3 separate regions of the Homo sapiens genome follow, and all the other regions are linked to region 3. The links come from fine-mapping of genetic effects on gene expression. A gene starts in region 3. Each other region holds a variant in brackets. All regions are shown on one strand. Distances are between the middles of the regions.

Evidence for each region. PIP is the estimated chance that this variant, and not a neighbour inherited with it, causes the effect.
Region 1: its variant is the best candidate, but not a certain one, in a credible set for the expression of CPE in blood mononuclear cells (TOPMed, PIP 0.73).
Region 2: its variant is the best candidate, but not a certain one, in a credible set for the expression of CPE in monocytes (TOPMed, PIP 0.77).

The regions. Positions count from the first base shown.
Region 1 is chr4:165,352,298-165,360,472 of GRCh38, forward strand. The region is part of intron 2 of LOC105377519 (a long non-coding RNA gene); the gene reads left to right. Among named protein-coding and RNA genes, the nearest start is that of CPE, 23 kb to the right of the region's middle. RefSeq lists an enhancer at 1-350. The variant G/A (reference allele first, on the strand shown) is at 3,868.
Region 2 is chr4:165,344,973-165,351,869 of GRCh38, forward strand. It overlaps LOC105377519 (a long non-coding RNA gene), which reads left to right and starts at 3,223. Exons shown (of 3, transcript XR_939416.2): 1 at 3,223-3,643. RefSeq lists a silencer at 1,065-1,359 and an enhancer at 6,476-6,897. The variant T/C (reference allele first, on the strand shown) is at 2,775.
Region 3 is chr4:165,373,518-165,384,426 of GRCh38, forward strand. It overlaps CPE (carboxypeptidase E), which reads left to right and starts at 5,491. Exons shown (of 9, transcript NM_001873.4): 1 at 5,491-6,011. The coding sequence starts at 5,705. RefSeq lists a silencer at 5,524-5,783 and an enhancer at 7,263-7,807.

The sequences.
Region 1 (8,175 bases), 23 kb before region 3:
AGAGAAAGTGAAAGTCTTACACAATGAAAACTACAAATATTGTTGAAAGAAATTAAAGCAGATCTAAGTAAATGCAAAGACATTTTTATGGATGAGAAAACTTAATATTGTGAAGATGACAATACTTCCCAAATTTATCTGCAAATTCAATGCAATCTCTATCAAAATCCAAGCTGCCTTTTTGTAGCAAATTACAAGCCAACCTTAAAATATATATGGAAATTCAGTAGACTCAAAATAGTCAAAACAATCTTGAAAAAGAAGAACAATTTAGAAGACTCATATTTCCCAATTTCAAAACTTACTACAAAGTTACAGTAAGCAGACAGCGTGGTTTTGGCATAAGGGTAGACATATAAAAATGGCGTAGGTTTGAACTTCAGATGTAAACCCTGATAGTGATGGCAATAGATTTTAACAGTGTTCCAAGATAATTTAAGGAGTAAAGAACAGTATTTTCAACAAATAGTGAAGGAACAACTGGACATCTACATGCAAAAGGATGACATTATAGATCTACCTCACTCCATACACAAAAAAGTAACTCAGATGATAGCACTAAATGTAAAAGCAAAATTGATAACCCTCTTAGAAGGAAGTGAAGGAGTTGCCTTGGATTAGCAATGATCCCTTATTTATGACCCCAAAAATACAAGCAACAAAATAAAATGATGAATACAATGGACTATGTGAAGAATTTTGTGCTGCAAATGATACCATCAAGAAACTGAAGACAATACACAGAATGGGAGAAAATATTTGCACATCCTATATCTGATAAAGAATTTGTGTCCATAATATATAAAGAACTCAAACTCAATAATAACAACAAGAGATAACCCAATTCTCAGCAAACTAACACAGGAACAGAAAACCAAACACCACATGCTCTCACTCATAAGTGGGAGCTGAAGAATGAGAAAACATGGACACAGAGAGGGGAACATCACACACTGGGGCCTGTTGGGGGGTTGGGGAACAAGGGGAGGGAGAGCATTAGGACAAAGACCTAATGCATGCGGTGCTTAAAACCTAGATGATGGGTTGATAGGTGCAGCAAACCACCATGGCGCATATATACTTATGTAACAAACCTGCACATTCTGCACATGTATCTCAGAGCTTAAAGTAAAACTTAAAAAAAAAAAAAGATTTGAATAGACATTTCTCCAAAGAAAATATACAAACAGCCAGCCAGGCACAGTGGCTCACGCCTATAATCCCAGAACTTTGGGAGGCTGAGGCAGGTGGATCACAAGGTCAGGAGATCGAGACCAGCCTGGCCAATATGGTGAAACCCCATCTCTACTAAAAATACAAAAAGTTAGCTGGGTGTGGTGGCAGGCACCTGTAGTCCCAGCTACTCAGGAGGCTGAGGCAGGAGAATTGCTTGAACCCAGGAGGTGGAGATTGCAGTAAGCCAAGATTGTGCCACTGCACTCCAGCCTGGGCAACAGAGCGAGACTCCATCTCAAAAAAAAAAAGAAAATATACAAACAGCCAACAGCCAATATGTACATTAAAAGTTGCTCAACATCATTACTCTTTAGGGAAACACAAGCCCAAACCACAATGAGATGTTACTTCACACCCATGATAATGGCTGTAATATAAAAGATAAGCAATAGCAAGTGTTGGAAAGGATGTGGGGAAGTTGGAACCTTTCTATGTTGCTGGCGGGAATGTTAGATGGTGCAGCTGCTTTGAAATGAGTTTGGCGGTTCATCAAAATATTAAACATAGAGTTACCATAGGACCCAGCAATTCCACTCCTAGGTATATACCCAAGAGAAATGAAAATGTATGTGAACACAAAAATTGTACATGAATGTTCATAGTAGCATTATTCATAATAGCAACAAGAGGAAACACTCCAAATGTCTATCATCTAATCCAGTGGTCCCCAATCTTTTTGGCCCCAGGGACCGGTTTCATGGCAGACAATTTTTTCACAGACGGGGTGGGGGTTGGTGGTTTTGGGATGAAACTGTTCCACCTCAGATCATCAGACATTAGATTTTCATAAGGAGCACACAACCTAGATCCCTTGCATGTGCAGTTCACAGTAGGGTTTGCGCTCCTGTGAGACTCTAATGCCACCACTGATCTGACAGGAGGTGCAGCGCAGGTGGTAATGCTCACTCACCCACCACTCACCTCCTGCTGTGTGACCTGGTTCCTAACAGGCCATGATGGGTACTGGTCCACAGCCCGGGGATTGGGAACCCTTGAACTAATGAATGAATTAAAAAATATGGAATACTCATACAATGGCATGTCATTCAGCCATAAAATGAATACAGTACTGATTCATGCTACAGCACGAATGACCCTTGAATATACTATGAGAAAGAAGTCAGTCACAAAAGACCATATATTATATATATGATACCATTTATATAAATTATTCAAAAGAGATAAATTTATAGGCACAGAAAGTGGATTTGCGGTTGCTTAGGGCTGGGGGTTGGGGCTTAGGAGGGAAGAATAGGGACTGACTGCTTATCCACTAGCAGGTTTCTTTTAGGGGAGCTAAACATGTTCTAAAATTAGATTGTGGTGATGGTGGCATGGCCCTATGAATATACTAAAAGACATTGAATTGTATACTTTAAAAGGGCAAATTGCATGGTACATGAATTATTCCTCAATAAAGCTGTTTAAAAAACAAAAAGGCAAACAGTTAGCAGTGTATTAGTTTGTTAGGGCTGCCATAACAATAAGCAACAACCTGGATGGCTTAAACAAGAGAAATGTATCGTCTCACAGTTCTGGAAGCCAAAAGTGAGATCAAGGTGTCAGCAGGGTTAGCTCCTTCTCAAGTCTCTGAGGGAAAATCTTTTTCATGCCTCCCTCCTAGCTTCTATATTTCTTTTTCCATTCCTTTTTTTTTTTTTTTTTTTGAGAAAGAGTTTTGCTCTTGTTGCCCAGGCTGGAGTGCAATGGCATGATCTCCGTTCACTGAAATCTCTGCCTCCTGGTTTCAAGTGATTCTCCTGCCTCAGCCTCCTGAGTAGCTGGGATTACAGGCGCCTGCCACCATGCCCAGCTAATTTTTATAGTTTTAGGAGAGATGGGGTTACATCATGATGGCCAGGCTGGTCTCAAACTCCTGACTTCAGGTGATTCACCCACCTTGGCCTCCCAAAGGGTTGGGATTACAGGCATGAGCCACTGCGCCCGGCCCCTCTTAGCTTCTAATAGTTTGCTGGCATGCCTTTTGCATTTCTTGGCTTGTAGATGCATTACCCCGGTCTCTGCCTTCATGTTCACACCGTATTCTCTCTATGTCTATCTTTCTTTGTGTCCTGATTTCCCATTTTCATAAAAACAACAGTCATATTGACCCACCCGTATTACCTCATCTTAACTCGATCATTTGCAAAGGTCCCTTTTCCAAATAAGATCACATTCACAGAGAGTGGGGGTTGGAGTTAGGACTTCAACATCGTTTTGGGAGACACGATTCAGCCTATAACAAACAATATGGACATGATTTCCTTAATTGTAAGATCAGAGATGCTAGAATAATGCTTACTTACAAATAGCTCATCCCATTCTCTAAGACTGTAATACAGAAGGAAGATTTTTTTTTCTATCTCTTCTTAGCTTGAACACTTATCTGGAAGGCAATGTGATTTTCTGAGACAGGCAAAGACATTGCATAATAATTCTGTGTCCTCAATGACCTTAAAAGTCATTTAGTTTAGTTATCTACTCAGAGTTTGAATCTCCTTCCTGTGACAGACAGACTATTTTTTTTTTTTAAGGGGGCTGTGAGCTGAGACCACTGGAGAGCAAATTCAGCATTTGGCAATAGTTCACTCACCAGCTGGTGGCAGTATTTTGCTTGAAGCTGTGAGGCCC[G/A]AAGACTGAGCACAGGAACTACTTAGACCTCAGTGTGGAGTCAAACTCTGCCATTTACTGTGTGACTTACTTGTGTGCCCTTAGACACGTCACTCAAGTGAATCTCTGTTTCCTTGTACATAAAATGGGAATAATGATGCTCCTCTTGCAAACTTTTAAGAATGAAACACAGCCATAAAGAAAAACACACCAAACAGCAGAGTGCCCAACTCATATCAGAAACAACAGCAACAAAAAACCAACAAATTTTTAAAAAAGCAAATGATGCTTAATTTTCTGAATTACTTAATTAGTATTTTAAAAATAGACTGCCAGCCAGTTGGACCCAAGAATATGGAAAATCTGAGAACCAGTGCAGATCTTTTTCACTGGAAACTATTATTTTCCCATGCACACACTGATTATTACAGGTTTGCCAATTTTTTTCCTGTAAAATGTGATGGGTAGATATATGCAATATATAAAAATAATTTGATATAACTACCAAATATATGTTTAAACTTAAAATATCCATTAGTTCACAGTATACAACTTTTAATGGTTGTGTTAAGAACAAAAACTTTTACATTTTTTCAATTTGGGAATTTTACATTAAAATGATTTTTATCAGCTATTTTATCAGTTTTTTCTGATTTTCATTCAAATGAATAATCTCTTATCATGTAACATCTGTTATAACACCTCAAAAACAAGAGTGATTTTCCTGCTGTGAGGAGTGCTGTGCTGGATGGAAAGCATAAATAACCCGGGACTAAGTGGTTCAGCTGACTTTTCCCCCCAGACAATTTAGGTTACCCAAATGAATGATCTTTTCATGGTTTTGTTTTTTCATTCTATTCCAGTTTATTTTTACCTTTTTTTTTTTTTTTTTTTTTTGAGAGAGTGTCACTCTGTCACCCAGGCTGGAGTCCAGTGGTGTGGTCTTGGCTCACTACAACCTCTGCCTCTTGGGTTCAAGTGATTCTTCTGCCTCAGCCTCCTGAGTAGCTGGGATTACAGCATGTGCCACCATACCCAGATAATTTCTGTATTTTTAGTAGAGACAGGGTTTCCCCACATTGGCCAGGCTGATCTCGAATTCCTGACATCAAGTGATCTGCCTGCCTCTGCCTCCCAAAGCTCTGGGATTACAGGCTTGAGCCACCATCTCCGGTCTATTTTTACCATTTAATCAAGGGTTTTCTCTAGCCATCCCTGGGTTCTGCACAAAACTCACATATTAGAAAGCGTTCCTCAGACAAGACTATGAAGACTAAGAATTATTCTCGAATGTGCTAGTTCAGGGCAGTGGGGATGAGCAACAGGATGGCAACAGTATTCTGAGAACTGGCTATTGAGAAAATTCCTTTTTAATAGGGCAGCATGCCTGCTTTACAGCTTTCATTCTTTACTGAAGAGTCCCAGACTAAGAAATCAGCAGTGATTAACATCTAATCCTGGCCACCGGGTGTTAGGGGAAAGTGGTTGTCCTTCAGAAACAAGGAGCCAATTAGAAATAAGTCATGAAGCATTTTCTTGGTCTTACTGAAATAGTGAATCTCCTTCCCTCCCTCCCTCCCTCCCTGCCTCTCTCCTTCTTCCCTTCCCTTTTTTGAAAGAGAGTCTTGCTCTGTCACCCAGGCTGGAGTGCAGTGGCGTGGTCTTGGCTCACTGCAACCTCTGCCTCTTGGTTTCAAGTGATTCTTCTGCCTCAGCCTCCCGAGTAGCTGGGATTACAGGCATTGCCTTCCCTTCCCTTCCCTTCCCTTCCCTTCCCTTCCCTTCCCTTCCCTTCCCTTCCCTTCCCTTCCCTTCTTATTTAAGCCATTTAAATTTAGTTTAGTTGCAATAAACCAAGTCTAATTCATCTACTCAGGACTTCGAAGTCAGTACTGTTGCATTCCAGGTTTCTTTGGTTACAACCTGTATCTCCATATAAACTGGCAGGAGTAGGTAGTGGTGATGGGTTCTTCATCAAGCCCAGCAACATTGCTCTCATACCTGCATTAAGCCACAACCATCAACTGTTTCCCGCAATTATGGAAGGAGTTGCAGCTTAATGAGTGTAGATTTTGAGCAAGTTATTTTTGAATTGTTGAGGTTCGACTTAAATAGCAGCATATCAGATGTCAACTGAGGAGCATAGCTTGATCTCTAAGAATTTATGTATTCATTCATTCAATCAATAATATTTACTTAGTTTTCCATTATGTGTCAAATGCTGCTAGGTGCTAGGGTACACTAGGGGCCTTGAGAGACAAGATTCCAGCCCTCGCACAATTTATAGTACAGGGGAGATTATGGACAATGAAATAAGTAATTATTAAAAACCTCTGAAACGTGAGAGAGGCTTAAGGAACTCTGAGATCACATAGCAACAGTATCTTTTTTGCTTAATGGAAGCTGTTAGGACAAAGCTCCCAGAGGAAATAATGTGTACCATGAGACCAGAAGGACAACTAAAAGCTAACCAGAAATGAAGGGGGACAGAGGGGAAGAGTGATTCAAGTAAAGGCAACAAAATATGCTAAGATCTGCTGGCAAGACAGAGAATAGAATAAACCAGATACTGAAAGAAGATTGTATGATTGGAGAGGATGCAGAGATGGCGGGACAAGTTGGAGAAATGTGCAAAGCTAGGTCATTATGTGCTTTGGAGTTTGTTTCTGAAGCTTTTTAGACAAGGGAGGCTGCCCTGCTGCAATGCTGTGCACAAGAAGCAAGAGAAGTGGAAGGAAGACCATAGAGCTTTGTGGCTTGTTTCCATCAGCAAACCTGTGTGACTAACCCTCACCTGTCCTCTATTTCCTCTCCTGCATAATCCTATCAGTTCAAGGCACCATTTGTGCCATTTATTTGTTTATTTACTTATTTATTGAGACAGGGTCTCTCTCTGTCGCCCAGGCTGGAGTGCAGTGGTGCAATCTCGGGTCACTGCAACCTCCACCTCCTGGGTTCAAGCGATTCTTGTGCCTCAGCCTCCCGAGTAGCTAGAGGTGCACACCACCACGCCTGGCTAATTTTTCTATTTTTTGGTATAGATGGGGTTTCACCATGTTGACCAGGCTAGCCTCGAACTCCTGGCCTCAAGTGATCCACCCACCTCGGCCTCCCGAAGTGTTGGGATTACAGGCGTGAGCCACTGTGCCTCGCCTGTGCCATTTATTTTGATGGTGCTTTTGGCACAGCACTTGTTGGCTGTCTGGACAAGCATGGGTTAGTGGTAGATACCTAGGAGTGGATTTATTAAATCGCTAATGAACTAGCATAGGTATTGGGAGTCAGCCTGAACAAGCTAAGGAGATAAGAAGCTAGTTCCCAGGAAGAGCTAAAACCAAGTTCAAGTAGGGATGGTGGTGGGGTTGTTAGGGTTTCTGCAAGTAGTAAATAAAATATAAGAAAACTCAAGGAGCCAAAATATTGGTTTGCCGAGGCAAGGAAACAGAAAGAACAAGTTAAAAAAATTGAAGCTTGGAAGAATCCTTTATTAAACAATTTTAAGCAATGTGGCAGCCGAACCTAATTTTTTTACCCAACCACACAGTATTAATGACTCATTGTGTTTGGTAACACTTCCTGCCATAAGTGTCCCAAGGAGCTGGGGTGTGGTGTGTTCTGAATCTGTCAATTCATTAATTATTTAACCAATCTAGTTATTGAACATTCATTATACAATTAGTCCTCATTTAATGTCATCAGTAGGTCTTGGAAACTGCAACTTTAAACAAAATGACATATAAAGAAACTAATTTTACCATAAGCTAATTGATATAAACAAGAGTTAAGTTCCTACAGCATACTTCTGGTCATAAAACCACCACGAGCTTCTAAATAAAGACCCCAAACACTTCTAATATTAAACACGGAAAAAATTGTGAGCTATATGTACATTTAGGAAAGATTAATTTTAAAAAGTAAGATTATTTACTTGCTTATTTCACTTCAGGGTCATAGGTGGCTGGAGGCTGTCCCAGCAGCTCAGGACATAATGTGGGAACCCACTGGCCAGGATGCCATTCCATGGCAGGGCACACTCATACACACACCCACACTGGCTCAGACCGGGACAATGTAGACACATCAATCAAATCAACATGCACATCTCTGGGATGTGGGAGGAAACCGGACTACCAAGAGAAAACCCACGTAGACACAGGGAGAACGTGCAAACTCTCCACAGATGTTGGCTGGCTCCAGCTGGAAATCATTTTTCTTTCTCATCAATGTTGGAACAAAATGACATAATTCAAGGACCTGCTGTGTATTGTTTTCAGAGTGTTCAAAATACTCCAAAAATCACTTCTTAAAAGCATATGTTTTTCCCAGCCC
Region 2 (6,897 bases), 31 kb before region 3:
AACTTCTAATTCTCATGCTCTTACATAAAACCTAGTAGGTTTTTTTGTTTTGTTTTGTTTTAGATAGAGTCTTGCTCTGTCGCCCAGGCTGGAGTGCAGTGGCACAATCTCGGCTTACTGCAACCTCGCAACCTCCACCTCCCGGGTTCAAGCGATTCTCCTGCCTCAGCCTCCTGAGTACCTGGGATTACAGGTGCCCGCCACCACGCCCAGCTAATTTTTTGTATTTTTTAGTAAAGACGGGGCTTCACCATGTTGGCCAGGCTGGTCTTGAACTCCTGACCTCGTGGTCCGCCCGCCTCAGCCTCCCAAAGTGCTGGGATTACAGGCGTGAGCCACCGTGCTTGGCCTAGTAGGGCTTTTTAATTCCACATTTAAGTTCTGTATTTCCACAGAGAGAGATAGTATCTAAGCTCTTCCTGAAGAGTGAGCACCTTGTTTCTGAAGGTTTAGCTCCTAATCCATTCTTGCAAAAGAATAGAATTTTTCAGCCAATGTTAGAAAGAGTAGCATGCTATTAGTCTAATGAATGCTGTCTCTGCAAGTGACTGCCAAATGTTGACATTCTTACATGAAATCATCAGAGGGCCATGGTAAAATGTCTTTAGTACATATGCTTAGAGGTCTGTTGCATTCTAAAAGTCTAAAGAAAAAGGACATGAATGGCTAGAATCTAAGATAGGAAATGTTACTTTCAAACTATTAGGAAGATAAGTAATTCAACTCAGGGACACAGGCTGCTTATTGTGCACTCACAAAAGGAAAGGGACCATGACGGAATGAGAACATGGGATAACTAACCTGCAAGCTGCGTATAGGATGCTGAAACCAGCACTGCTGGGATAGTAACAGGAGAGATTGCCATGTATGCCCTGCCAGCCGGTCTTGCTCCCTTGCATTATGAAGCTCCTTGGCTCCTGGTGATTGGCTCACTCCCTGGAAAGCCTTTCCCCCTCCTCTCTCTGGAGAGCTATTTCCTCATCTATGAAATGAGGATAATAATACTTCATGGGCGGTTTGTGAGGATTCAGTAAGATGCACCATGTGAAGTATGCGATGCGTGTAATGAATGTTAGCTATTTTTTTTAAATTCCCTCCCTTTATTTAAAGATCCGGTTCAAGACTCACCGCACCACTCCATCAGCCCCACTCTTCTTTCTGAGGTCTTATTTCTGCTTCAGATTAGAGAAATCTCTCCCACTCTCCCTCACTCAGAGTTCTGTAACACTCATCTCTACCACCTCTCAGCATACGCCACCTTGTGTTTTCTGCTTCAGACAGAGATTGGAAGATATTTTTGAAGAAACTGAACCCAACCCACAGAAAAATACATCCAAAGTTTGAAAAGATTGACTTGCTGCCTGATTATTTAAAATGGTTTTACAATCACATTTGCAAATTGTATTGCTACCTCTTTTTTAGCCAAAGATCTCTCTTTTGCACCGTGTGCTTTCGTTCTTCTGCACATTTGCTCATGCCTAACCTTCAGCCAGTGAATGTTATTAACATGGTCAAAGGCACGCGGGTAGTTCATGGCAAAGCTGACTGCAGAGCTGAGATCTTCCCACTGTGTGTATTTTCTCCCTTGGTATGTATACCTGGCACCTTGCCTTGAACATGGTAGGAGTTCAATAAATATCTGTCAATTAAAACGAAGAGAGGACATTGTAATAACATCATAATATAGGAGTGACAATTAAGCTGCCATTTTAGTAATCAGTTCAGAAGGTTTTTAGTAATTAACAGCAAATGATGGGGAAGGAGAAGACAAGGAAAGAAGAGGGTTCTTGAAATACAAGCCAGAGCCAGAACCAGGTGCAGGGGCTGCCGGGTTCAGTTGAAGTCTGGCTACATTCTAATGCTTTGGCATCTTAAAGTTTGATTTCACTGGTCATGTTCTTGTGGGATATGCAGCTTGATATGCTCTTTGAAGGAACAAATTATGTATCAGAGCACGTTCATGTCCGTTTGAGTTCGTGTCCAGCTAATAAAGAAAATTTAGAACTATTTAGTCTGTTGGCAGATTTCAATCAGACCTCTTGTATTCCATGAAGGTTCTCTGAGATTTTTTTTGCTATAAAATAATTCATCTGATAATAATAAAATATCATGATGGTATAGAGGTAGAAGAATAAGGAATTGGTCACTGCCCAGGAGTAGGTAATATACCATTAACATATTAGAATGGGAGGCTGAGCTACCTAATTTTTGCATTTCTATGTCACAGGAAAATGATCTTCAAGTTGGAAAAGGAAACAAACTAGCCCCGTTCAAAGGGAAGCAAATCCCAAAGAGGAGGAAATTTTTAGCAAAGTGTTTCATACATTTTAATAAACTTTTTTTTTTTTTTCGAGATGGAGTCTCGCTCTGTCACCCAGGCTGGAGTGCAGTGGCGCTATCTCGGCTCACTGCAACCTCCGCCTCCTGGGCTTAAGCAATTCTTCTGCCTCAGCTTCCCGAGTAGCTGGGACTACAGGTGTGTGCCACCATGCCTGGCTAATTTTTTGTATTTTTAGTGGAGATAGGGTTTCATCGTGTTAGCTAGGATGGTCTTGATCTCCTGACCTCGTGATCCACCCACCTCGGCCTCCCAAAGTCCTGGGATTACAGGTGTGAGCCACCGCGCCTGTCCTTAAATAAACTTTTAAGTCTCCAAAGTCAGATAACTTGCATTCCAGGTGACAGAAAGAATTTGTAAATGTGATTGTAAAGCCATAGATGATCAGGCAGCCAGTCAATCTTTTCCAACTTTGTTAAGTATTTTTCTGTGGGTT[T/C]GGTTCAGTTTCTTCAAAAAAATCTTCTAATCACTGTCTGGGGCAGAAACTGCTCATATGTCTTCATGCTGGGAATCACATATGTGGGAGGAGACAGGATCTGACAGTTGAGTGGGTTCCCTTTCACAGAATCCCTCTTCTGCCACCTGCCTAGCTCACCCAAGGCCTCCTCAGCATCAGGAGAGTCTTGAGCCTCTTCTGTTCCATTTCTCCAAAGAATAAATCTGCCCCTTGGGAAGTGTGGCTCTACAGAGTTGGAAAAGGGACCTGTGGCCTAAAGGCTTTGTAATAGAGTTTTGAAGTGAAATTGAAATGCTGGCTTTTAGTATTACACAATACCAGGGTATTTAATTTTTAATGGAACCACACCATACAAACACACCAGAAAAGCACACAGCTTGATGAATGGTTACATCCATTTGATCACTACACAATCAAGAGCGTGACTACTTCCTTTGTCAATTGTCCACTTTGGACCAGAAATGTAGTTAGAGTCTTACCTGGTTCAGCAAGTGAATCCAAATTCTCTTGACCAAGGAGAGTTTCTAGTGTTGTGACTTGAGGCTTTGCCTGTAGCCTTGTCCTGTTAAACATGTTTATCATTGACCTAGATAAGGCCACTGCTGCCAAGCTTATCAAATTTAATACTGAGGCAGAAGAAAAACAGCAACTGACACTTTGTTCTACAGGACAGAATCAAGATCCTGCAAAATGTTTGCCTTGATTTAAAAGTTCAGCTGCACAAATGGAGGAGAGGAAACATAACCAGGATTAACAGCGATACATACCCAAGAGCCGTAAGGATTTTAGTGGACTACAAGTGCTCACTTCCCCACAACTTAAGACAACCGTACGCTAAATTATTAAAGGTAAGCCTAAATTACAGAGAAGACAGTGATCTCCTTTTATTCTGCTTTGGTTGGTTACGGGTGGAAAAGCATATTATGCTTAGTGCATCATATATGACTAACATCCACAGGAGACAAGAGAGTAATCAGGATTTTTGTTGTTATTTTGTGTTTGTTTTTGTTTCTGAGACAGAGTCTCACTGTATTGCTCAGGCTGGAGTGCAGCGGTGTTATCTCAGCTCACTGCAACCTCCACCTCCTGGGTTCCAGTGATTTTCATATCTCAGTCCCCCAAGTAGCTGGGACTACAGGCACACACCCTCACACTCAGCTAATTTTTGTATTTTTAGTAGAGACAGGGTTTTGCCATGTTGTCCAGACAAGTCTTGAACTCCTGGCCTCAAGTGATCCACCCACTTTAGCCTTCCAATGTGCTGGGATTACAGTCATGAGCCACTGTGTCCAGCAAGGAATTGCTTAAGGTCTAGCAGTAATTACACAAGATAATTTAAGGAAACAGAGGGATAGTCTAGAGCAGCTCTGTCCAGTACAGTAGTCATGAGCTGATGTGGCCATTGACATCTCTGAGTACAGATTATAGAACATTTCCATCATTACAGAAAGTTCCATTAGACAGAACTGGTCAGAGAAAAGAGGACTAAATAGAAATATCAAAGGTGTGTTCAAATGTCTGAAATGATATTATGTAAAAGAGGGTGAGTCATTCATTATTGCCCCAGAAAGCATAAGTGTATCAGGAAATAAAGTTCTAGGTGTTTGCTGTTTAAAAATTCAAACTTTGGAAGAACTTTCTTAAAATTAGAGCTAGTTATCTTCCCCTTCATTGATGGTTTAGGCAGCAACTATAGGATTCTTAGTCAGTATATAACGAAAGAGATCCTTAAAATGAGGATGAATTTCTAAAAATAAATTTTATTTTATTATTTTATTTATTTTGAAACAGAGTCTCGATATGTTGCCCAGAGTACAGTGGCACAATCTTGGCTCACTGCAACCTCCTCCTCCCAGGTTCAAGAGATTCTCCCACCTCAGGCTCATGAGTAGCTAGGACCACAGGCGTGCACCACCACTCCCAGGGCTAATTATTGTATTTTTTAAGTGGAGAAATGGTTTCACCATATTGGTCAGGCTGGTCTCAAACTCCTGACCTCAAGTGATCTACTTGCCTCAGCCTCCCAAAGTGCAGGGATTACAGGCATGAGCCACTGCACTGGGCCTAAAAATGAATTTTAATTGATACATAATAATCATATGTATTTATGGGGTACAGTATGATATTTCATGATATAGTTGTATAGAATGTGTACGATCAAATCAGGGGAATTAGCATATTCATCACCTCAAGCACTTATCATGAAATGAGGATGAATTTGAACTGGATTATATCTCTTTTTTGAGACAGGGTTTCACTCTGTCCTCCAGGCTGGAGTGTAGTGGCATGATCATGGTGGCTGCAGCCTTGAACTCTTGGGCTCAAACAATCCTCCTGCCTCAGTCTCCTGAGTAGCTAGGACTACTGGCATGTGCCACCATGCTCAGATGCTCAGCTAATTTAAAAAAAAATTTTTTTTTTTTTTTTTTTTTTTTAGAGATGTGGTATTGCTATGTTGTTCAAGCTGGTCTCAAACTCCTGGCCTTAAGCTATCCTTCCATCCTGGCCTTCCAAAGTGTTGGAATTACAGGGATGAGCCACCACAGCTAGCCTGAACTGGATTATTTCTAATGATACTTCCAGCTACCATGGTTCTAATGTAGATATTTTAGTTTATTGTTGCAAACATTTTTAAGTAAAGCTTACAAGGTTTTTTTTTGTTGTTGGTGGTGGGAGGTTTTGTTTTGTTTTGTTTTTTGAGATGGAGTCTCGCTCTGTTGCCCAGGCTGGAGTACAGTGGCATGATCTCAGCTCACTGCAACCTGGGTTCAAGCGATCCTCCTGCCTCAGCCTCTCGAGTAGCTGGGGCTACAGGCATGCACCACCATAACTGGCTAGTTTTTGTATTTTTTTTGTATTTTTAGTAGAGATGAGGTTTCATCATGTTGGTCAGGCTGGTCTCAAGCTCCTGACCTCAGATGATCTGCCTGGGTCAGCCTCCCAAAGTGTTGAGATTACAGGAGTAAGCCACCATGCCCAGCCGGAAGCTTTGTTCATTTTTAAAAATTCTTTTGTCTTTGACAGATTGGGTTAATTCAAAAACCTTGTCTTTGAGCTCTGAAGTTCTTTCTTCTGCTTGTTTGATTCTATTGCTGAGACTTTCCGGTACATTTTGCATTTCTCTAAATGTGTTCTTGATTTCCAGAAGTTGTGACTGTTTTTTATTTATGCTATCTATTTCATTAGAGAAATTTCCTTTCATATCCTTTATCACGTTTTTGATTTCATTAAGTTGGACTTCACCTTTCTCTTGTGCCTCCTTGATTGGCTTAATAATCGACCGTCTGAATTCCTTTTCTGGCAATTCAGACATTTAATCTTGGATTGGATCCATTGCTGGTGAGCTGGTATGATCTTTTGGGGGTGTGGAAGACCCTTGTTTTGTCATATTACCAGAATTGTTTTTCTGATTCCTTATTTGGGTAAACTATGTCAGAGGGAGGATCCGAGATTCAAGGGCTGCTGTTCAGATTCTTTTGTCCCACAGTATGCTCCCTTGATGTGGTGTTCTCCCCCTTCCCCTTGGAATGGAGCTTCCTGAGAGCTGAACTGTGGTGACTGTTTGTGACCTCCACCCAGTGGAGCTACCGGGCTCTGGGCTGGTACTGGGGAGCATCTGCAGAGTCCTATGATGTGACTGGTCTTCAGGTCTTTCAGCCGTGGATACCAGCACCTGCTCTGGTTGAGGTAGCAGGGGAGTGAAGTGGACTCTGTTGAAAGTCCTTGCTTGTGTTTTTGTTTAGTGTGCTGGTTTTGTGTTGGTTGGCCTCCAGCCAGGAGGTGGCGCTTTCAAGAACTCATCAGCTGTGGTCCTATAGGGAGGATACGAACTTGCCCTAGGGACACCTGTTTAAGTATTCAGGTTTCTCAGGTGGTGGACAGGGCCATAGAGCTCCCAAGAGATAATGACCTTTGTCTTTGGCTACCAGGGTGGGTAGAGAAAGACCACTAAGTGGGGGTAGGGATAGGTGTGTCTGAGCTCATCCTCTCTTTGGGCAGGTCTTGCTGTGGCTGCTGTGGGGGATGGGGATGTGGTTCCCAGTCCAGTGGAGTTATATTCCCAGGGGGATTATGGCTGCCTCTGCTGAGTCATACAGGACTC
Region 3 (10,909 bases):
TCTCTCCCCACCCCACAACAGGCCCCAGTGTGTGATGTTCCCTTTCCTGTGTCCATGTGTTCTCATTGTTCAATTCCCACCTATGAGTGAGAACATGCGGTGTTTGGTTTTTTTGTCCTTGCGATAGTTTGCTGAGAATGATGGTTTCCAGCTTCATCCATGTCCCTACAAAGGACAAGAACTCATCATTTTTTATGGCCGCATAGTATTCCATGGTGTATATGTGCCACATTTTTTAATTGTTACGTCTTCTTGATGATTTATCCCTTTCATCATTAAATAATGGGGACCTCCTATGCCAGTTTCTGACTTAAATTCTATTTTATTTGATATGATTATAGTTATCCTTGATCTCTTTTGGTTATCATTTGCATGGAATATCTTTTTTCATCTCTTTACTTTTAGCCTATGTGTATCTTTGATTCTAAAGAATGCCTCCTGCTCACAACATATAATTATTTTTTTAATCCATTCAGCTATTCTACGTACTTTTATTGGAGCATTTAATCCGTTTACATTTACATTATCGATAGGTAAGGATTTACTATTGATATTTTGTCATTTTCTGTTTTGTAGTTCTTTTGTCTCTCTTTTCCTCTGTTGCTGTCTTCCTTTGTGTTTTGCTGATTTTTTTGTAGTGATATGCTTTGATTCCCTTATTTTTTCTTTTGTATGTATGTATTTATTTCTTTTTCTTTATCTATTGTATGTATTTTCTTTATGGTTTCCATGTTTCTTTGTCTCTCTCTTCTCCTTCTGGACACCCATAATCAATATATTTGTTCACTTGGTGGTGTCTGATAATTCCCTTAGACTCTCTTCACTCTTTTTGATTTTCTTTGCTTTTTGCTTCTCTGACTGGATAATCTCAAATGACCTGTCTTGGAGTTGACTAATTCTTCTGTTTGATCAAATCTGCTGTTAAACCCTTATGATGAATTTCTTATTTCAGTTATTGCATTCTTTCACCTCAGAATTTCCATTTGGTTCTTCTTTATCTTTTCTATTTCTTCATAATATTCTCATTTATTTAATGTGTTATTTCCCTCATTTTGTTTAGTTGTCTATCTGGGTTCTCTTGTAACTTGTTGAGCTACTTTAAGATGATCATTTTGAATTCTTTGTCAGACAATTCATAGATCTCCATTTTTTTAGGGCCAGTTGTTGTATATTTATTTTGTTCTTTTGATTGCGTTTTATTTTCCTGTTTCTTCATGTTACTTGTAGCTTTGCATTGATGTCTTTACATGTGACATCCATGTCTTAATGACATGTTCTCCACTCTTAATGAACTGGCTTTGATAGGGAAAGACAGCCCAGATAGAGTTTCTGGGTCTTGTTCCTAGGTCCTGATCCAGGTGTTCAGTCTTTTTCTTTTCTTTTCTTTTTTCTTTTCCTTTCTTTTCTTTTCAGCACTAGCAATCTCTTGCTCCCTCTGGTTCCCATGTCAGTCTCATCTGTGCTCCATATGAGATGAGATAGAAACTAGCTCTTCAGGGAGCTCACTGAAAGGCTCAGGACATTAGAGTCATGATCCACTCCTCCTTCTTTCCTGAAGGAGAGGCCTTAGTTCTATGCCTTCTACAGATCTCTCCGAGCCTTGCCAGCCATGGGAAGGTGCCCATTCTCCTAGCTTTCCCAGGCATCTGGACTATGCCATGTCTTTAAGCACTCTGTAAGAGGCACAACAGAAGCCAGCCCCTTGAGGGGTGTACTGAAAGGCCAGAAATGTTGGATGCTCACCCTACTCTCTATCCCCTGCCCTCCCTACACCAGGAAAGGATTGTAGTCTCTCTGGTGCTGAGTTGTACTCGCAGGTAAAGTGAAATAGCTTTTCTTATCTGTTTCAGTGTGGCTGATTGTGATTTTTTGTTTGTCTGGGGTACTGAAATTTCTTAACTTAATCCTGAACTTCTTATGAAGCTAATTTGTTACTTATATCACTGTTAAATCTGTGTTTCTGTTGGGAAATGAGGGCTGGAACTTCCTATTCTGCTATCTTGCTGACATCACTCTATCCTTGATGTTCTTGAGGTTATTTATGTCTATTGTATCTGTATGGGGGAGATGTATGTATTAGTGGTGGTTCTGGCTCAGAGTCTCTAATGTGGCTGTGGTAAACCTCAGATGTCAGAGATGGAGCCCTCTTGAGGCTCAGGTGGGGCTGAGATCTGCCCCTGCCCACCCACATGGTTGTTGACAGACCTCAGTTCTTAACTGAATGCTAGACCGAGGATGTCAGTTTCTCTCAGGCTGTTTGCCAGATGCCTCAGTTCCTTGCTATATAAGCCTCTCCACAATATGGCAGACAACTTCCCCAAGACAAGCGATGGAGTGATGGGGGACTGGGGGAAGGAAAGGAGGGAGAGAGAGAGGGAGAGGGGGAGGAGAGAGCGCACACACAAGCATGAGAGAGCAATTAAGATGGGAGCTGCAGTCTTTTTAATAACCTAATTTTGGAAGATCATCTCATTACTTTTGCTGTGTTATGTTCATGAGAAAACCACTAAGTCCTGCCTACACTCAGATGGAAGAAATTAAGTTTCATCACTTGCAAAGGAGGAGTATAAAGAATTGTCCCATCACAACACTATATGATGTCATGCTACTGCATATCTCTTCCTAACACTGTATTCAGTGATACAACATTGGTAGTTTGAAATCAGCCATGGTGGGAATATTTAAACCATGGAAATTAGCAAACATTCTAAGTCAGACTTTTCCCCCCAGACAGCTGACATTTACCAGCACACATCAGGATGAATATAGAGCTATGTGTTCACAAAATTTTTATGAAGTAGACGAATTTTAGGAAGGGCTTTGAAAGAAGGAAATAAAATATTATTGATAAAGAAAAAGATAGTTTCTTAATTTAAAGATAATAGAGGTGAAGCAAGAAGTGGAGGGAGACCTAGGGAGTTTAAATATGCTCTTATGGATGCCTATAATGACATGAAGAAAAAGCAGCTCTTTCTTTCTCTTTTTGTTTCTTGTGTGTGCATGTGTGCACATGATTTGAAATGGAGATTGCATACTAAATTTAACTATGTGTACACACATTAAAGACTTGGCATACAAGATTTTTCTTTAATCCAGCAATCAGGATGGGTATATAATCTTTTACATAATTGCCTATGAAGCCACAAACAAGTAATCCATACGCCAGTAAAGTTGATACAGCTGACCTATACCTAAAATAGCTCAGAAATTCAAAGACCAAATTTTAGTTCATTTGAACTGATGCCTTGGTGTATGTAGTACGACCAATAATATGTGAGGAGTGCCACCATTTATCAAATGAGCAGGAATTCACTTCAAAAAGAAAATTTCCAGAATCATAGCATTTTAGGTCTGAAAGAGACAGTGGGAAACCTACAGTACATTATTTCTCAAAATGTCTTTGTCAATCAAACATCAACATCAGAAATGACTGGTCTTCTTTTTAAAACCTAGAAGCTTGTTAATACCTGAAACCCACCCCAGACCTGATGAATTCATAGGGGCTTAAGAATCTGCACATTCTATAAACTCTCTACATGATTCTGTTGCAAGCAAACGTTAGAGAGTGAAAAATCCAAACCTTTTATTTTATAGATTAGGGAAACAAACAACTAAGCTGTAAAAGAGAACCCCCTGCCCAACAAGTGAGACCACATAGTAGGCATGATTTTACACATTACAATTTTTTTTTCTCCAAAATAAAATTTTTTAAATCCAGCAATCAGGGTGGATATATAATCTTTTGTATAATTGCCTATGAAGCCACAAACAAGTAATACATATGCCAGTAAAGTTGGTACAGCTGACCTACACCTAAAAATAGCCCAGAAATTCAAAGACCAAGTTTTCATTCCAAAATTTTTTATTTTGGAGAAAATAGAACGCATATCCTTTGTTCAAAGAGACAGCTAAGGAACAACACAGGACTTCAATGAAAAATATGTTGTTTATGTGTGTAGTTACTAGTCAGTATGCCCCACCTAGCCACAAATTAGTGTGGTTACTCTAAATTGCTAACATGAAAATCTTAACCTCCTACTTCTGAAGTTATTTGGTTTTAGCTACTCAATTTTTTTTTCTAGGCTTCCAAGGTTGCTGTTTTGGGCATGGTTTTAGAAATATAATTATAAGTTTGATTTCAAACTTCTGGACCATGTAATCAAGCACAGACTGGTCATAGTGGAAAATATACAATTTTTAGCTCTGCCTACATTGACAAAAAAAAAAATGGCTGGATCCACATCAATTCAACTTGAGTGCCATGTGTTTACAGTGACAGTTTCTCCCCGAAAACGCAAAAAAAAAAAAAAAAAAAAAAAGAAGATCCATGCTGCTGTAGTATATGTACATAGGGGTGTTTAAAGCCAGCCCCTCCAGCAGCACCTTACCAACCATGTCTGTGCTTTTATTTATTGATCCAATAAGATGACTTAAATATCTAACTCCTTTTCCACGTAAAAGTTTTTATTATGTGCAATGCATTGTTAAACAGGTGAAGAATGAACAAGTTTAGAAAAACAAAGAAGCTTAACATGGAAAATTACCCGCATGGTGTCCACTTTTCCTGCTCGGTTGCAATACCCAATGGATTATTTATTAATTTAGATTTGTGCTGTCCCTGAATCCAAACAGCAGCCTCTTTAGAGTAACATCTGCTCCAGACATTGCTCCAGGAATATAAATCCCGACTAAGGGGTGGATATTTAAAGCTGTAAATGATTTTTTATTTTTACAATAGCTTTGCAAAAGGAACGGAGGTGTCATGTCATCATCAGAGTTTTCTTAACAGGATTTAATCTTAATGCCAAACTAAATCCTTTGTCTAAAGCATCAGCAGAGTTGTACTTATTTTCCCCATAGTATTAAAGAGGAGGGCTGGTGCAGGCACAGCCATATGACATTGCCTTATTTATTTTGTCTGTTTGTTTTCTGGAAGAATCTAGGAATGTGCATAAATACAATTAAGGACAGTATCTACAAATTGGAAGAAAGCATTTCTATTCTCTTAAACCTCTAAATCAAAGCACTTAATGTTCTGATTTCCAGCAAGACCTTCTAATAAATGAAAACCCAACCCTTGGGTTTGTGTTTTGACTCTTGATACAATTATGAAAGACGCATCAGGAGATGGCAAGTGGCTGCCAGTACTTCCTTTTTTCTGGAATATTCTCTAATTCTTGGTGGATCAAGATGGAAACTGGTAGGCTTGGAATAGATGTCCCTTTAAAAGGCTCCACTAACAATACAAGAATATTTTTTCCATACGCAGTGACGTGGGTGGGTCATGGGTGTCTCAATGACAGTAACGTTCCCGAACCCCGGACCTTAGCTGTCATTTCACCTGCGTCGTCCCGGACGCCATTTGGCTGTTGACGTGGTTCCGAGCCAGCAAATAACGCCAGCAGCCCTCCCAGATCCACGCCGGCCCGTCTCTCCGCCGGCCCCCTCCTCGCAGTGGTTTCTCCTGCAGCTCCCCTGGGCTCCGCGGCCAGTAGTGCAGCCCGTGGAGCCGCGGCTTTGCCCGTCTCCTCTGGGTGGCCCCAGTGCGCGGGCTGACACTCATTCAGCCGGGGAAGGTGAGGCGAGTAGAGGCTGGTGCGGAACTTGCCGCCCCCAGCAGCGCCGGCGGGCTAAGCCCAGGGCCGGGCAGACAAAAGAGGCCGCCCGCGTAGGAAGGCACGGCCGGCGGCGGCGGAGCGCAGCGATGGCCGGGCGAGGGGGCAGCGCGCTGCTGGCTCTGTGCGGGGCACTGGCTGCCTGCGGGTGGCTCCTGGGCGCCGAAGCCCAGGAGCCCGGGGCGCCCGCGGCGGGCATGAGGCGGCGCCGGCGGCTGCAGCAAGAGGACGGCATCTCCTTCGAGTACCACCGCTACCCCGAGCTGCGCGAGGCGCTCGTGTCCGTGTGGCTGCAGTGCACCGCCATCAGCAGGATTTACACGGTGGGGCGCAGCTTCGAGGGCCGGGAGCTCCTGGTCATCGAGCTGTCCGACAACCCTGGCGTCCATGAGCCTGGTAAGGGCGCTGCCCCCTGACAGCCCTGGGGGCATCCCGGAGGGGGGCGGCAGAGGGTGGGACTGGTGGCGGTGGGGGAAGGAGGGAGGGATGGGCCCAGGGGTGCCTCTTGGTAAAAGGTATCTAAGGTGGAAGGTGGGAAGTGGAGGGAGGGATGGAAATGGGGAAGAACCCGACTTAGAGCGCCAGTGGCCCAATTTCTGCTTTCCCGTCCCATCCCCCCAGCACCAATCCCATCTCCCCAGACCTTAGGCCACCCTCTAGTAAGTATAGGCTTGGGAGGCTGGGGTGGCGGGGGATGGGGGGGATAGCAATACAGAAAAAACAAATCCTGACGCACGCAACCCCAGCGGTCGCTCTCACTTTGCTGTGTGAAAAACCCAAAGGAATGATTGCGAGTCCCCCGCAAGGGGGGTTGGTCTTCCTTGCTGACAAGAGTAGAAAGATAAGGTGCAGAAGGCAGTGATTGAGAGGAAAGGAGAACGAGGGAGAAAGAGTCATTTATCATGTTTTCTCTAATTTCCAGAGGACCAGTTTATTGGCTCTGTGTACCCATCTCTACCTGTGTGTGTATACGTATTAGGTACACTCGCTGCTGTGGATGCTTGGGGAATCTTAGGGATATTGCCAATCTGGGGTGGTGGTGTATAAAGATACGTTGGTGCCCCTCCTCCTACCAGGGTGAAAAGTGGTTTCTGACTTTTGAAACCAGATTTTGAAACTGCACAAGGCCTTTCCAAGGAAAAAGGAGTATTCCATTTTCTCTGCTATAACCATTTGAGATGAATAGTTTGTGATGGGGTCTTTATTCCAACTGATGTTCCCAAATAACCATCTGTATTCGTCTTTCCTAGGAGTATATTAAAGCACCTTTTGGTTTATGTTAATTGTGATGCATTTAGTATTAATAAAGAGGTATTTAAAAATGTTCTTGGGACTTTTTTCGTTATGTTTCTGCTTAGGAAATAATTTGGGCCTGGTCTTCTGATAATCAAGGTACAGCTAAAGTAATCTGTGCTAATAATATCAGCATGGGATGGATGCTTAATTTTTGTTTAATGACAAAGCAAGCAAGAAAAGTAGGCTAAAAATTCTCAGTGCAGGGCCAGTATAGTTTTATAATGATACGTAAGAACCAAACTGAGAAGAGATTAAAATAAGTGATCAATAGACATTTTGATCTTCAAATATATAGTAGGTGGGTTGATCAAGAATAAATCTTCAGGAAATATTTCTTACCTTCAAATAATATAAGAAAAAAAGGTTCATGTAAGTTTGCTGTCAAAATTCTAAGATCAGATCCTAGAAAACATTTAATATTAACTACTCTTATCTACCAGGATTCAGCATGTAGGATTGGACATTTTGAAACTTAGTTTCATACTGTTATCTGAAGACAGGGAAAAATTTAAAATGTGATAACTGATTTTCAGCTAAATCCAATAACCAAAGCCAAGATATCCTAGGCACAGTTAAAGCTAATGTAAGTATTTGTGAGTCTCCTGCTGCTTACTTAATGAGAACCCTTTGTTACTCTATTTTGTAGATTGATCCCAGAGTTTTTTGCGTTGTTACTTCAAGAGATTATATGAAAGCTAATGTTTAACTTTTTGTTGTTTCAAATTTGGAAATAAAATTTTAAAGTGATATTACAGTTAGAATGTGATATGCTTTAGAAAATGAAAACAATGATTTCTTTGCTTAAGTATCTGGAATATATAGTTCATCAAGGTTTGCAAATCCTTCTTTTAGATTGCAAGCTGTATGAAGTGGGGACCCTGATTCCAGCACCCAGCTCATGTTTGGCACACAGCGGGCTTGAATATACATTATGAAATAATCTACATTATGGAAAAATACTGAATATGCAGTGTGGAAAAAATGAATCCATCAATAGCTGCATAACACAGTGTATTAAAATAAAATGTTTTATTCTTCATACATTCAAAATACGTTGATTGAATTCCTCTTACAGAGACAAACTCGGAAGTGTTGTACAATATGTACTTTACAATTCCTTTTTAAATGAAGGAGACTCTAAGTCTATGGTATTACTAATAGAATACAAAATGTCTGTGTCCCTTATATTTTTAAAAGTAGAAATAAACTATTATAAACCAACACTAACAAAAGTACAAGGTGATATCCCCCTCCATCACCTTTTATGAGCGTCAAGGAGGTTAGAGATCTTCAGGAAACTAGTAAATATAGAGATCTGATCAGTATACAAGTTTGATGGTGCTTGTGTGAATTAACTTTAAGGAAGTTTGGAAAAAGGAAAATGTTCACCATTCTTAAATGGCCTTTCAGTTTCTTTTAGGTTAAACTATTTTAAGAAGTAAAAAGGAATACTTATTCTGAGGTACAAGTGGGCTCATTCAGTGTTTTTTTTGAGCACCTGTATACTCAAGGTGGACCAGGCGTCTGTGAGTTGTGCCTCTGCACAACCCATAGAAGATAACACAGAAGATAGTCGCTTGCCCTGAGGGCAATAGAGAATTGGGAGCTTGAAGAACAGCATAAAGGGATGTGAGGCTGCAAGATCGGCTTTGGGAGGACTGGAGAAAAAGACAGTAAGGTCAGCAGGTCAGGGAGACTGGATTATTGAAGAATTGATGACAAAAGACAGTAGGTCAGCAGGTCAGGGAGACTGGATTATTGAAGAATTGATGACAAAAGACAGTAGGTCAGCAGGTCAGGGAGACTGGATTATTGAAGAATTGATGACAAAAGACAGGAAATGTACAGTTTGTTGACATTTACAAATTCCAAAATAGCTGGTATAGATATCTGTCTTCACTAGGACCCCTGCTTTTGAAAAAGGGCCAATTGTCTTTACTATTTTCACCTTTTAAGTACCTTATTTTTTGGTTTGAAATAACCTTTCTGATTCAGCTTTAGGAAATAATATTGAACTTAAGAAATGTGTTTACTTGACTGAAATTTTGAGGTGAAATTGCTCACTTTTGTTTTATTTTCCAGCAAGAGAGGTGTCAGATTTGTTGATTAGTTTTCTTAATCTAGATTCTTTTCCTGAACATTAAAAAAACAGTGGATTTCTAAGGATTTAGTTGTCGTAACAGAAGAACTCCAAGAAAATACAACAACATACCCACAAAAAGCCCTTTCTTGTGGTAGAATAAGCAAGCTAGAGGTTTACTTTGTTAGACTAGCAGTTTTTGGACAGAGATGTTTGTTGATACAATTAGCTCTCTTCCTGAGCAGAAAGAAGTGATCTTTATACATGCTTGGTACAGGACATGGGGTGTAGTTGAGGTTATCTCCTGAAAATGACTTTCTTTGCAAGATGTTCAACTTTTGAATTCATCAAAAGGCAAAGCAAATTCCATTTTGAATTGGTCATTGAGGAATAGCCAAACCTATTCTGTGATGACATCTTAGGAATCAGCTTGATTGTTGACCAGCTGAATGTTGGGTCTCAGTCATCATTTTGTATCACTTCTGAGGTCTGCAAAAATCTATTGAAAGAGAGTTGCGAGTAGCAGCCAATTTCAATAAGCAGAATCACAAATGGTCCTGTCATTGGTCTCATCTTTTCAGACATTGTTAAGTCTGGACCCCAGATGGGTTTCCTCTACACTGGGAGTTAGTGTTTGTGGCCCATTTGGAACTGGGATGAAGAATGGGCTTAGACTAGGCTAGGGGCTGATTCTAAGTGCTCAAATATGTCCCCATTAGATATCATACCTGCTAGGCATGATCATTTTTCCCGTTTTTCTTTCCTTTTACTTAGATTTTATACTTTTTTCTTATTTCCATGCTTAAGGACTCACGTATTCAAACCCAAACATATGCCTTCCTAGGCATGTATATCCATCATCGAAATACAGTACTCATAAAAGAAACCTTTATTAACTTATGTCTAAGTAATGGATTCTGTGTTCCCAGACCACTCGACCCGGAGTTAAATATGAGTTAAGATTAATTTGCTTAAAACACTATTTCTTTTACACGTAGTTCAAGATAGCTTTTGGGAAGTAAATCTGATTTATAGCTAAAACGCTATCTCAAAAACATTCTTTAGAGCAGGATTTTTCTTTCTCAAAGGCTGGAATGATTATTTTGGACGTATTCCTCTCTGAATCTGTTAAAATATAAAGTGTATAAATGCCAGTATGAATTTGCCAAATATTGTGATGGAACATTTAATGCTGGCAAAGTTTCCACACAACTTGAAAAAAATAAGTGGGGATTTTTATTATTTGTATGGCGTCTTTTTATAGCAGATTAGTATGTGTTAGTGGCAAATGGTTACAACTAAGTAACAACTTAAAATTCGTGAAGATAGATGTTAGATCCTAGAGAAGAATCTAGACCTACCACACATGGTCAAGAGTTATTTTTAGACCTGAATGAGTCAACACAGCTTTTGCCAGAAGTGATGTTCTTGATTGACTTGTAATTGGTTAATGGAAGAGAAGGCAAGTTGGGCTTGCCCCTACATGATAGCCTTTGCTCAGACAAAAGAGGCAGCTTTCTGTGACAACTGATTTCAGAGGTGGCAGACGACTCATTTGCTAGTAACTCCCTTACCGTCTTACCACGGGGCGAAATCCTATTTCTAAATATTATTAAGAAATACAAAATAGCTCTTGTAACGGGTGACACATTAACCCAGCTTTTCTCAAAATATATTCCATAGAACATATATTCAGCATGGTTTGATAGGCATTATGTAAACAAAGATAAACAGGTTTGTATATTGAAAGACCTAACAGAGCTCTTAATAGGCTAATGTATGTTTCAAATCTCCAAGTTAGATTCGTACTGTATAAGATTTCCCAGGCTTTTACCATGGGATTTCCTCCTCTCCCGCTGGCTGGTGGCTCACACCTGGTTGAGGCAGGAGGAGTGCTTAAGGCTAGGAGTTTGAGATC